3 separate regions of the Homo sapiens genome follow, and regions 2 and 3 are each linked to region 1. Evidence: fine-mapped expression QTL. A gene starts in region 1. Each other region holds a variant in brackets. All regions are shown on one strand. Distances are from middle to middle.

Region 1 (4,243 bases):
ATTTGTAATACCTCCTAAGTTTAAGAGTAGGTAAAATGTGTGATAGAGCTGGAAAGTTTTTTTTTCCTTTCTGGTCAGAAATCAGGGTAGCTGTAAAAATGTTGGTGGGGTGGGGTCAATTCCATAGTCTATGACCTGATTCGGTAGGCGACTGAAAAACATTGTACAACTCTTAAAAAAAGGGAGGAAGAACTCACACTTAACCAAGCAAAGCAAGGACACCGTGTTGACATACACAAGTTTCGGTTAACATGGTATCAAGGAAAGCGAGGACTGCCTGTACTTAAAATGATCATTAAGACTAATGATTCTAGTTTTGGCATTGAGGATGAATGCAGATATATAGACATAATGTATAGCAAAGAATATTTACAGTCACATTTCATGGACCAATAAATAACGCATTTACTTCTCAAAATGCCCAAGAAAATGTGGGAGAGAAAATGTTCATTTATATTCAAGATTAAACTTTCTAACTTTAAATCATCAGACTTCAGCTGTAAATTTATTTCAGTTGAAAGGTTTGAAGACATTATTAATGAATATTCTAAAATTCCGGAAGGTGTTTAAAAGATAATTTTAACCTAATAAAAAAATCCTGCCATAGAAGTGACAAAAATTATAAGCATAAATTTATTGAGCACCTACTATGTGTCATTGTGCTAGGTGATGTACTACGTTATTTCCAATACTCCGGTCACGTTTCAGTTTTCTCAATTTCTCTATCAATAACTGCTACATTGTTAATTTATAACTATATTACTTGAAATACAGCTCAGCTTATTTATTCCATAAAGTTGGTCCCAAAGACGTTTCCTTATTCGAAGGAGGTGGGAAGCAGGAAGGAAACCTAAATCTAAATTCTACTTAATACTGAAGACGACTTTCTTGATATTTGTGGTTATCTGTATGGTCTTTTCAGAAATCCCAAAACTTGTACCAAGTCAAGGATAAAATAAGATAAAATCAGCAATCTATCAGGTTCAGAGATCACATCTGTCAGCCGATGCTTCTTGCCTTAAGGTCCTGCACGGCGATGACCGCTCATTTAGGAAGGAATTCATGGCCTGTGGATACCTTAGCTCTGAGTCCTGCCACCTAGGATCCCACGGTTCTACGCGAGGAAGAGGGCGGGGAGCGCGGACCGGGTGTGGGAGGCCGAGGTGACAGCAGGTGAGGGCCGGGTGCGGATGGGGAAGTGAGACAAGCACCGTGTGGGTATTACTCATTCCGCTCTACTAAGGAGGCTGCTGGCAAGCGGAACTTCTAGCCTCTCTTTCAATCCAGCTGAAGTTCAATCTCATTGAAGTCACTTCCCATCCCGGTTCGCTTGGGGGGAAACCAGGCGTCCCTGGAAGGGAAGGGAAGGGAGTCCGGGCTGCGCGGGTCAGGTAGCCTCTCTCCGGTCGCCGCGTGTCCTCGCCGTCCCCAAACCTGCCCTTCCCCTCATCAAGGGAACTCCCCGGGGAGTCCAGACCGCGATCCCTTTCCTTGGCCCCGGGGTGCGGGGGGCGGACACGCGAGGCGTGGGACTGATGGTAGCCCTGCCTCCAGGAAGCAGGCAGGCGGGGACCTCTGGGCGCTCGGAGGGGCAGCTCCGAGGGCACAGGGTACAGGGAGAATCAGCCAGATCCCTCCCTGCCCCGGGCAGCCGCGGCGGGTGTGGCCAGCGCGGAGGCAGGACGCCGCCGAGCCTCCAACTTTACCTTTCCAACTCCGACAGCCCGTCGCCTTTCTGACCGCGTCCCTACGGTTTCCCGGCATCCGCCTCCCTCTCCCCACCACACCTGAGGAAAACTTTTCCCTCGCCCCTCAATTCAAATTCAGCAGTGCCCACGGTTGCCGCAAACCGCCCGGTCCCTAGCAACAAGGTTCCGGCCGTAGAGCGAGAGCCTCTAGGTGTAAGGAAGGTGATGTCGTAAAGCCGGGAGTGTCGTAAACCAGGTGCGGTGGGGAGGGGGGAGGGGTGGAGGCGGAGGGGTGGGGGGGAAGGGGGAGGGAGGGGGAGGAGGTGACTCGAGCATTTAGACACAAGCGAGAGGATCATGGCGGATGGCCCCAGGTGTAAGCGCAGAAAGCAGGCGAACCCGCGGCGCAATAACGGTGAGTGGCGGAGGGGACCGGGGAGCGGCGGAGTCAGGGGGAGCTGGGCAGCCGGGGCGCCCCCGGGGGTGAGGGGGGCGAGCCGGGCTGGGGGCAGCCGGGGCAGGGACGGCAAAGTGGAGTGGGAAAGTAGAAAGTAGTGCTCTCTGCCCCCCTCCGCTGCCGCCGCTGCCGGAGCCGCGCCGCGGCCGCTCGCTCTCCCTGAACCGTTATGTCTCTTACCTGGTCTCTCTCCGCCTAGCGGCTCCCGCCGCCCCTGCCGCCTCCCTGGACCGTTAGCCGGCGCCGACGCCGCCGCATCCCCGGCGCAGGGCGGGCGGCCGGGACGCACTGGCCACTTTTCTGGTCCCGGGTGGAGCGGCTGTTGCTTCTTTCCGCACTTTTCCCCACTCTTGTGCCCTTCGGCGCCTCCCTCTCCCCCTCCTCCTGGCCCCCTCAGCGCGATTCTCCCTCAGCGCCCAGGCCCCCGGGAGCCGCGGAACAAACTTGTGCCCGGCGCTGACCGTGCAAAGTGGCTTCCGCGCGCCGCGGCCCCGGCCGGCGCCGTCGCTGTCGCTCGGGCCCCGCGACTCGGGCCGGGCTGTGGGCGCGCGGCAGGCGGGCTGCGGCGGCGGCGGGACGGGGCGGCCGCGGGTTGCGTGGGGTTTGTGCGCGCGTGTGCGCGGGCGCCGGCTGTGCGCGCCGCGGGCGGACAGGGTTCGGCCGGCGGCGGTAAAGTTGGGACCCGCGGGCCGGGCGCGCTCGCGTAACGGGGATTAGAGGCGCGGGGGCGCGGGTCCCTAAGCGCCCCTCCTCCCTGGCGCCTCCCGCTGCCCGGCCCAGAGCCCCGGCCTGGGGACTCCGCGGCGAGCCCCGCGAGTGGGGTCCACGTTTGGCGGGGCGCGGCGGGGCGGCGCGGGGAACAAGGCAGGAAAGGTACCCACTTAACGCCGCCGGGAGCCGCGCGGATGGGGGCGAGCTGGGCGGCGGGTGTGTTTGCGGAGTTGTTACCTGGGCTTAGAGACCGGGAAGCACCACAGACAGATCCCCCTCCCGGGGCAGACGAGGTCTCTGCGCCGGGATGGGCCGGTGTGCGTGCGCCTCGCGCTTTTCTCTTTCGGTTTTTGGGGAAGTTGTTACCTGGGCCGGACGCACGGAGCGCTGAAGCCGGATAATGGGGCTTGGATGGCGCTCTGGGTCTCGGGTGGAAGGAGGGTGGGGGAGGGGGCGGACGGACCGACGGACGCGCGGGGCTGCTACTTGCACCGCAGCTGCAGTGTTTATTGATTTGTGCTGCTGTGCCAAGGGAAACACACACCCCTCTGCCTGGCGTGAGAGTTAAAAAAAAAGAGAGACAGCCCGAGGGATCGAGACCTGAACATGTGGTGGTGGTTGCACAGTCGCCTTTTCCAGTTTGGAGAGACGTTGTAAGTTGATTGTATTTCTGGTTATCTCGGGGCGATGCTATGCTTTCTCTCCCTCTCGTGCAGCAGCGAAATGTCTGCTGATTGTTATTGTCTGGACAGTTCCTGTGGCGAGAGGGGCGAGACTTGTCCGCCCGGGGGCGGCGGGAGCGCAGGGAGAGCAGCCCCCGCCTGCGCCGCCCCGGTACCTGTTTGTATAATAATGGGCGGCAACGGCCCTGCCGCCGGCCGCAGCCCAGGCTATATAAGGAATTACACGTACATTTCGGACCGAGGGGCTCGCTTTGGTTCCTGCGTTATTTTTAAAACGACTTTTAAGAGAGGGGCAATAAATGCGTCTATAATGGGACCGCTGCAGCGTCGAGAAAACGAGGAAATACGTGTTTAGGAGAAAACTCTCTCGTGCTCCCCCAGCCCCACCCCCCGCGCCTGGGCTCCCTTTCTCCCTCCCCTCTGGGATGCGAAACGCGAGGTTTTGTAACCTTTCCTGGCAATTTTAGATTTTGTGTGGGATTTCCTGTCTAGAAGCAGATACGAAGATTTTTAAGCTGTTTCAAGATGTTTCCTTCCAATCCATAATTATATTTTTAATATATTCGAGCCATCATTAAAATCACTGCTTTCGTGATTTTAATTATTCAAATAAACACTTGCATTTTAAAGACGTCTGTTGATTATAAACGAAAGGTATTTTGGTATTCTCATTGTGGAGAGATGACTTGTTATAGCAAGGAGTG
Region 2 (4,243 bases), 160 kb before region 1:
AAGAGAATCCGGTGGCACATCCAGCCCCCCAGATCTCCCTTATTACATTGCTCACAAATTTTTCCTCATCCCCCAGGCTCCAAATTGGCAGTGATCTTTAATTCTGCTCCCTCCATTTGTCTCTGCGTCCAACAAGTTACCATATCCTACACATTTGGCCTTCTCATTTCTGCCCTCGATACTGTAATTCAGGCCTCTTATCCAACCATTGTAACAGCCTCCCAGCTGTTATTTCCACACGGAACTCCACTTCCTCCAATTCTATTATAGCATTTCCCGGTAGTCAGATTAGTTTTCCAAATATATAGCATTGGCAATGTTATAATATCATCCTCCTGCTCACAAATCTTCAGTGGTTTCTCATGGTCTATAGTTTCTTTATTTGTGCGTTCTGGCCCACTGCCTGTTTTTATAAATAAAGTTTTATTGGAACATAGCCACATCCATTTGTTTACGTATGGCTTATGGCTGCATTTGTGCTATGATAGCTGAGTTGAGTCATTGTGACAGAGACCACATGGCTTTCAAAGCCTAAAATACTATTTGGCCTTTTACAGAAAACATTTGCTGGCCTCTGCTCTAAACTGTGCTCCAGTTTTCCTTTCTGGTTTTCTTTCTTTCCTTTTTTTTTTTTTTTTTTTTTCGAGATAGAGTCTCGCTCTGTCGCCAGGCTGGAGTGCAGTGGCGCGATCTCAGCTCACTGCAACCTCCACCTCCCGGGTTCAAGCGATTCTCCAGCTACTTATTTCCCGAGTAGCTGGGAAATAAGTACACCCAAACGGTAGTATTGGGACTACAGGCACGTGCCACCATGCCCAACTAATTTTTTGTATTTTTAGTAGAGATGGGGTTGCAACACGTTAGCCAGGATGGTCTCGATCTCCTGACCTCGTGATCCACCCGCCTCGGCCCCCCAAAGTGGTTTTATTTCTTTATAGCCTGGGCTTTCATGCTGTCGTGCCTTGGCTTTCATTAATACACTCTCTGCTTAGGGAAATGCAACCCTCCAGGCCCATTTCAGGGGGACCCTCTGCATGGAGACTTTCCTAACTTCTGTTTCAATGTGACCTCCCCTCACTTTTTACTTCGCTATGGCATGTTGAGTGTTCTGGCTTTTACTACAAATATTAATCAGTATCCTATTGCTTCTCCTCTCACCCCAGTCTCTAAGCTCCTTAAAGGCAGAAGTTATGTCTTATCCATCTTTAAATCTCCCCAGGGTCACCTGAATATAGTTACTTAATAGATATTTGGAGATTTTCTTGACTCGGAAACTAGGAGTCTTTTCTTCCAGTGGCTTCCAGAATAGATAATCAACATTCCCCTACTGGGGAGAAACAAGGTGGGAGAATGAATACAACCTATGCTCCCCTAGGAAGGTTTTAAGAATTTTATTTTGTGTTTCTTGTTTTGTTTTGTTCTTGTGCATAAGAGATTAAGGAAATACACAGCTACTTTATAAGAGACTCCTTAAGAAAGAGATGGAGGCAGGACCAAGGAATGCACAAAGGATGGGGTATTTTGCCATAAAAAGTAACTGCAATACACTGAATGTGTCCCCCAAAATTCATGGTTTTAAAAAATTAAATAACTGCTTTTATTGAGATATAATTTGATGTTTTGATATGCATATGTATTGGGAAATGATTACTATAGTCAGGCTAATTAACATATCCATTACCTCACATAATTACCTTATTTTTGTAATGAGAACACTTAAGATTCACTGTCTTAGCAAATTTCGAGTATACAATGCAGCATTATTAGCTATAGTCACCATGATGTACATTAGATTTCTAGAAGCTACTTCATCTCAAATAAATGAAAGTTTATACCTTTTGACTAACGTCTCCATTTCTCCCAGCTCTCAGCCCCTAGAAGCTGTAGAGATCCATGTTTTCGCAAATGACAGGATTTAGAATTTCCTTCTTTTTTAAAGCTGAATAATATTCCAGT[G/GTA]TGTGTGTGTGTGTGTGTGTATCACACACACATGCATCTATGTATTATCTATCTATCCATCTATTCTATCTATCTATCTATCTATCTATCTATCTATCTATCTATCTCTCTATCTAGCAATTTCTTTATCCATTTACCTGTTGACAGACACAGATTGTTTCCACATCTTGGTTAGTGTGAATAATGCTGCAATGAACATGGGAGTGTAGCTATCTCTTCAATATACTGATTTTATTTTCTATAACTTTGTAATATACTTTGGGATTGAGAAGTGTGATGCCTCCAGCTTCATTCTTTTTTTTCTCGAGACTGCTTTGGCTATTCAGGATCGCTTGTTGTTCCATACAAATTTTATGATTATATTTTCCATTTCTGTGAAAATTACCACTAGAATTTTGATGGGCATTGTGTTGAATCTCTGGATAACTCTGGGTTGTATGGACATTTTAACAATATTAATTCTTCCAGTCCACAAACACAGAATATCTTTCCATTTGTGTCTTCTTCAATTCCTTTCATCAATATCTTATAGTTTTCTATGTAATAGATCTTTCACCTCCTTGTTTAAATATACTTCTAAATACTTTATTATTTTTTATGCTATTATAAATGAGATTTTTTATTGATTTCCTTTTTGGATAATTTGTTGCCGGTGTAAAGAAACACTACTGATTTCTGCATGTTGATTTTGTATCCTGCAACTTTACTGAATTTATTAGTTCTAACAGTTTTTTATAGAGTCTTTAGGGTTCTGTACATATATAATCATATCATTTGCAAACAGAGATAATTTTACTTCTTTCTTTTTTATTTGGATGCCTTTTATTTCTTTTTCTTGTCTAATCACTCTGGCGAGAACTTTTAGTACTATGTTGAATAGAAGTCATAGTGTGGACATTCATGTACCAGACCTTACAGGAAATGCTTTCAGATTTTCTTCAATGATTATGACATTTGCTGTGGGTTTTTCATAAATGGCCTTTAATCTGTTGAGGTAAGTTCATTCTATACCTATTTTTTGAGAGTTTTTAGCAAGAATGGATATTGAAATTTGTTAAGTGATTTGTGTGCATCTATTAGGATGATCATGTGATTTTTATCTTTCATTCTGTTAATACAGTGTATCATGTTGATTGATTTGTATATGTTGAACCAATCTTGTATCCCAGGGATAAATCCCACTTAGTCATGGTGTGTAATCTTTTTTATGTGCTGCTGGACTTTGTTTGCTAGTAATTTAGTTTGCTGGTATTGAGGGTTCTTGCTTTTTATTTATCAGAGATATTTGCCTTTAGTTTTTATTTTTCTTCCTTGTGGTGTCTTTGTATGATTTTGATGTCAGGGTAATGCTGGGTTCACAAAATGAATTTGAAAGTATTTTCTCTTCTAGTTTTCAGAAGAGTTTGAGAAGGATTGCTATTAATTATTCTTTGACTGTTTGATAGAATTAATCAGTAAAGCCATCAGGTCCTGAGCTTTTCTTTGTTAGAAGGTTGTTGTTTACTGATTTAATTTTCTTATATCTTATTGGTCTCTTCAGGCTTTCTATTTCCTCTTGATTAAGTCTTAATAGGTTACATATTTATTGCAGCACATCCATTTCTGCTAGGCTATCCAATTTATTGGTGTGCAATTGCTCATAAAAGTCCCTCATGATCCTTTTTATTTCTCAGGCATCCACTGTAATGTTTTCTCTTTCACTTCTGATTTTGTCTAGTTAAGGGTTTGCAAATTTTGTTTATTTTTTTCGAAAACTCAGTTCAGCTTTGATGATTTTTCTGTTCTTTCTTTTAATTCTGTATTTGATTTATTCCCACTCTAATCTTTATTATTTCTAGCTAACTTTGGGAAAAGTTTGTTCTTCTTTCTAATTCTTTGAGCTATAAAATTAGGTTACTTGAGGTGTTCTTTTTGTAATGGAAACAAGCATTTATTGCTATAAACTTCCCTCTTAGTAGTCTTGTTGCTGCATCTCATAAGTTTTGATATATTGCATTTTCATTTCTGTTTATTTTGAGGTATTTAAACAATTCTCTTTTGATTTCTTGACTCAATGATTATCAAGGAAATGCCATTTGGCTTCCATATATTTGTGAGTTTTCCTGCTTTCTCACTGTTATTGATTTCTATTTCATTCCCTTGTGGTCTTAAAGATACTTGGAATGATTTCAGTCTTCTTCAATGTGTTAAGACTTGTTTTGGAACCTACATGTGATCCATCCTGGAGAATGTTCCATATATGTTTGAGGAGAATGTGTATTCTTCTGCTGTTGGGTAGAAAGTTCTA
Region 3 (4,243 bases), 120 kb after region 1:
ATTTGCACGGTGCCAAGAAATTGTTAGATCAACAGGTCGGCATTTTAAATTTTGATAAATATTGCCAAAGTAACACAGCATATAAGAGTGTACTCTTTTATTTAAACCTTGCATATGTCAGGCGTTACTGGGACTTTTTTGCCGATTTACTAAACATCATTTATCTAGGGATTAGTATCTACAGCCAGTGTTCTAGATGAGGGGAACAGTGGTGATCGAAACAGAAAAAATTCCTGTCTGAATGGAACTTGCATTGTAGTGTAGTAGATAATCAATCAATAAGATATTATAGTGACAAGTATTTTTAAAAGAAATAAATTGAGGGAGAATAGGGAGTGCAATGGGGGTGGGGGTGGTATTTAAATAGAGCAGTCATAGGAGACCTCCCTGAGGAGGTGGAATTGGGCAGTTCATAAAGAATATTACAGGTAGAGTGATATGAAGCAAGAGGCCAGTATACCTGGAATGCAGTGAGCCGGGGTAAAGTAGAAGACAAAGTCTGAGAGAGACAGGTGAGGAGAGTCAGCCCATGGAGGGCCTTGGATTACAGTGAATAGGATGGGAAGTCATTAGATGGTTTGACAAGATTCCACTGATGCTTTAGAAGGTTTTGTCTGCTGTGTTGAGAACTGACTACAGGAAGACAAAGGTGGCAGCACGGAGACCAGATAGGAACCAGTGACAGTACTCGAAGTGAGAGATGATGGTACCATCAGGTAGTTAGTGGCAGGGAATTGGTAGTGGGTGGTCAGATCTTGAATATATTTTTATAGGTATTTCCTTCCAGAGTAGATGCATGGGATATGAGAGAAAAAGAGGAGTCAAAACTATCACTGAGACTTTTGGCCTGAACAACTGGAGGAATGGAATTGCCGTTTACTGAAATAGAGAAGACTGAGAGACCAGGAATTGTATTTGGCTATGGTAAAAAATTTCCCATTAGAAATCCAAGTGGTGATATCACCAAAGACAAAAGCCACATGATTATCTCAATAGATGCAGAAAAGGCCTTTGACAAAATTCAACAGCCCTTCATGCTAAAAACTCTCAATAAATTAGGTATTGATGGGACGTATCTCAAAATAATAAGAGCTATTTATGACAAATCCACAACCAATATCATACTGAATGGGCAAAAATTGGGAGCATTCCCTTTGAAAACTGGCGCAAGACAGGGGTGCCCTTTCTCACCACTCCTATTCAACATATTGTTGGAAATTCTGGCCAGGACAATCAGGCAGGAGAAGGAAATAAAGTGTATTCAGTTAGGAAAAGAGGGAGTCAAATTGTCCCTGTTTGCAGATGACATGATTGTATATTTAGAAAACCCCATTGTCTCAGCCCAAAATCTCCTTAAGCTGATAAGCAACTTCAGCAAAGTCTCAGGATACAAAATCTATGGGCAAAATCACAAGCATTCTTATACACCAATAACAGACAAACAGAAAGCCAAATCATGAGTGAACCCCCATTCACAATTGCTTCAAAGAGAATAAAATACCTAGAAATCCAACTTACAAGGGACGTGAAGGACCTCTTCAAGGAGAACTACAAACCACTGGTCAAGGAAATAAAAGAGGATACAAACAAATGGAAGAACATTCCATGCTCATGGATAGGAAGAATCAATATCGTGAAAATGGCCATACTGCCCAAGGTAATTTATAGATTCAATGCCATCCCCATCAAGCTACCAATGACTTTCTTCACAGAATTGGAAAAAACTACTTTAAAGTTCATATGGAACCAAAAAAGAGCCCACATTGCCAAGACAATCCTAAGCCAAAAGAACAAAGCTGGAGGCATCACACTACCTGACTTCAAACTATACTACAAGGCAACAGTAACCAAAACAGCATGGTACTGGTACCAAAACAGAGATATAGACCAATGGAACAGAACAGAGGCCTCAGAAATAATGCCACACATCTACAACCATCTGATGTTTGACAAACCTGACAAAAAGAAGAAATGGGGAAAGAATTTCCTGTTTAATAAATGGTGCTGGGAAAACTGACTAGCCATATGTGGAAAGCTGAAACTGGATCCTTTCCTTACACCTGATACAAAAATTAATTCAAGATGGATTAAAGATTGAAATGTTAGACCTGAAACCATAAAAACCCTAGAAGAAAACCTAGGCAATACCATTCAGGACATAGGCACGGGCAAGGACTTCATGTCTAAAACAGCAAAAGCAATGGCAACAAAAGCCAAAATTGACAAATGGGATCT[A/C]ATTAAACTAAAGAGCTTCTGCACAGCAAAAGAAACTACCATCAGAGTGAACAGGCAACCTACAGAATGGGAAAAAATTTTTGCAATCTACACATTTGACAAAGGGCTAATATCCAGAATCTACAATGAACTCAAACAAATTTACAAGAAAAAAACAACCCCATCAAAAAGTAGGTGAAGGATATGAACAGACACTTCTCAAAAGAAGACATTTATTTATGCAACCAAAAGACACATGAAAAAATGCTCATTATCACTGGCCATCAGAGAAATGCAAATCAAAACCACAATGAGATACCATTTCACACCAGTTAGAATGGCAATCATTAAAAAGTCAGGAAACAACAGGTACTGGAGAGGATGTGGAGAAATAGGAACACTTTTACACTGTTGGTGGGACTGTAAACTAGTTCAACCATTGTGGAAGACAGTGTGGCGATTCCTCAAGGATCTAGAACTAGAAATACCATTTGACCCAGCCATCCCATTACTGGGTATATACCCAAAGGATTATAAATCATGCTGCTATAAAGACACATGCACATGTATGTTGATTGCGGCACTATTCACGATAGCAAAGACTTGGAACCAACCCAAATGTCCATCAGTGATAGACTGGTTTAAGAAAAGGTGGCACATATACACCATGGAATACTATGCAGCCATAAGAAATGATGAGTTCATGTCCTTTGTAGGGACATGGATGAAGCTGGAAACCATCATTCTCAGCAAACTATCGCAAGGACAAAAAACCAAACACTGTACGTTCTCACTCTTAGGTGGGAATTGAACAATGAGAACACTTGGACACAGGGTGGGGAACATCACACACCGGGGTCTGTCGTGGCATGGGGGTAGGGGGGAGGGATAGCGTTAGGAGATACACCTAATGTAAATGACAAGTTAATGGGTGCAGCATACCAACATGGCACATGTATACATATGTAACAAAGTTGCACGTTGTGCACATGTACCCTAGAACTTAAAAGTATAATAATAATAATAAAAAAAAAAGAAATCCAAGTGGAGCTATCAAGTAGATAATTTGGGATTCATAGGAGAAGTCACCTGGGATATAAAACTGGGAGTCAACAAATGGCATTTAGAGCCATGAAACAGATTGAGGAAGTGGAGGAAAGAAACGAAAAAGAAGCAGTTGGTGAGTTAAGAGGAAACTGATAGAGTCAAGAGAAGAGATTGTTTTGAAAAGGAGAGAGTAATGAATTATGTCAAATGCTGCTAAAAGATCAAGTCAAATGAGGACTGATAATTGTCATTGCATTTAGCAGTGCTCACAGTCATGACAAGAACAGTGTTGGTGGAGTGTTGTAATTGGAGTAATTTAAGATAAAATAGGAAGAAACAAATTAGAGACACATGTAGGCAACTTTTCCAAAAAGCTTTGAAGTATAGAGGGACTGAGATATAGAATTAGGAGTGCTGGAGTTTAATCAAGGTAAGAGATTAGCCAGCATAGAGATTTTGAAGCCAGAGAGAGCAAGAAAGTTGAGAGTGTACGTGAGAAGTGATTATAAAAATATAAGATTAAAATGGATATTTCTTCTGTTACTGAGGTTGAGCATCTTTTTACATGTTTATTGGGCATTCATTTTTGTGTGTGCGAATTGCTTGTGCATATTCTTACTGGGTGGTTCATCTTATGAGTGTTTAAGAATTCTCTGTAAAATAAAGATGTCAGCCTTTAGTCATATGTGTTGCACATATTTTTCACAATTTGTCGTTTGTCTTTTGACTTGATTTTTTTCTGTGTATAGTTATGGGTTTCATTTCATGCTTATAATGGCCTTCTTATTCCAGGTTTGTAAAAGGATTTGCCTATATTTTCTTCTTTTTTTTTTTTATTATACTTTAAGTTTTAGGGTACATGTGCACATTGTGCAGGTTAGTTACATACGTATACATGTGCCATGCTGGTGCGCTGCACCCACTAACTCGTCATCTAGCATTAGGTATATCTCCCAATGCTATCCCTCCCCCCTCCCCCCAC

Alleles and levels. Positions count from the first base shown, and alleles are read on the strand shown. Sizes are in standard deviations (SD) of each study's normalised expression. Not every link is listed here.
In carriers of allele GTA in region 2, the expression in macrophages of the gene that starts at base 2,027 in region 1 tends to be higher than with G alone (moderate effect, 0.65 SD a copy in Alasoo 2018).

The links. PIP is the estimated chance that this variant, and not a neighbour inherited with it, causes the effect.
Region 2: its variant is the best candidate, but not a certain one, in a credible set for the expression of ZEB1 in macrophages (Alasoo 2018, PIP 0.65).
Region 3: its variant is the best candidate, but not a certain one, in a credible set for the expression of ZEB1 in whole blood (TOPMed, PIP 0.60).

What each region holds. Positions count from the first base shown.
Region 1 is chr10:31,317,190-31,321,432 of GRCh38, forward strand. ZEB1 (zinc finger E-box binding homeobox 1) reads left to right here and starts at 2,027. Exons shown (of 9, transcript NM_001174096.2): 1 at 2,027-2,103. The coding sequence starts at 2,046. It overlaps ZEB1-AS1 (ZEB1 antisense RNA 1), which reads right to left and starts at 1,906. Exons shown (of 3, transcript NR_148979.1): 1 at 1,707-1,906. RefSeq lists silencers at 1,222-1,281, 2,022-2,471, 2,512-2,601.
Region 2 is chr10:31,157,989-31,162,231 of GRCh38, forward strand. No RefSeq gene overlaps it. Among named protein-coding and RNA genes, the nearest start is that of LINC02664, 28 kb to the right of the region's middle. The variant G/GTA (reference allele first, on the strand shown) is at 1,957.
Region 3 is chr10:31,439,329-31,443,571 of GRCh38, forward strand. All of the region lies in intron 1 of ZEB1 (zinc finger E-box binding homeobox 1), which reads left to right. Among named protein-coding and RNA genes, the nearest start is that of ZEB1, 120 kb to the left of the region's middle. The variant A/C (reference allele first, on the strand shown) is at 2,236.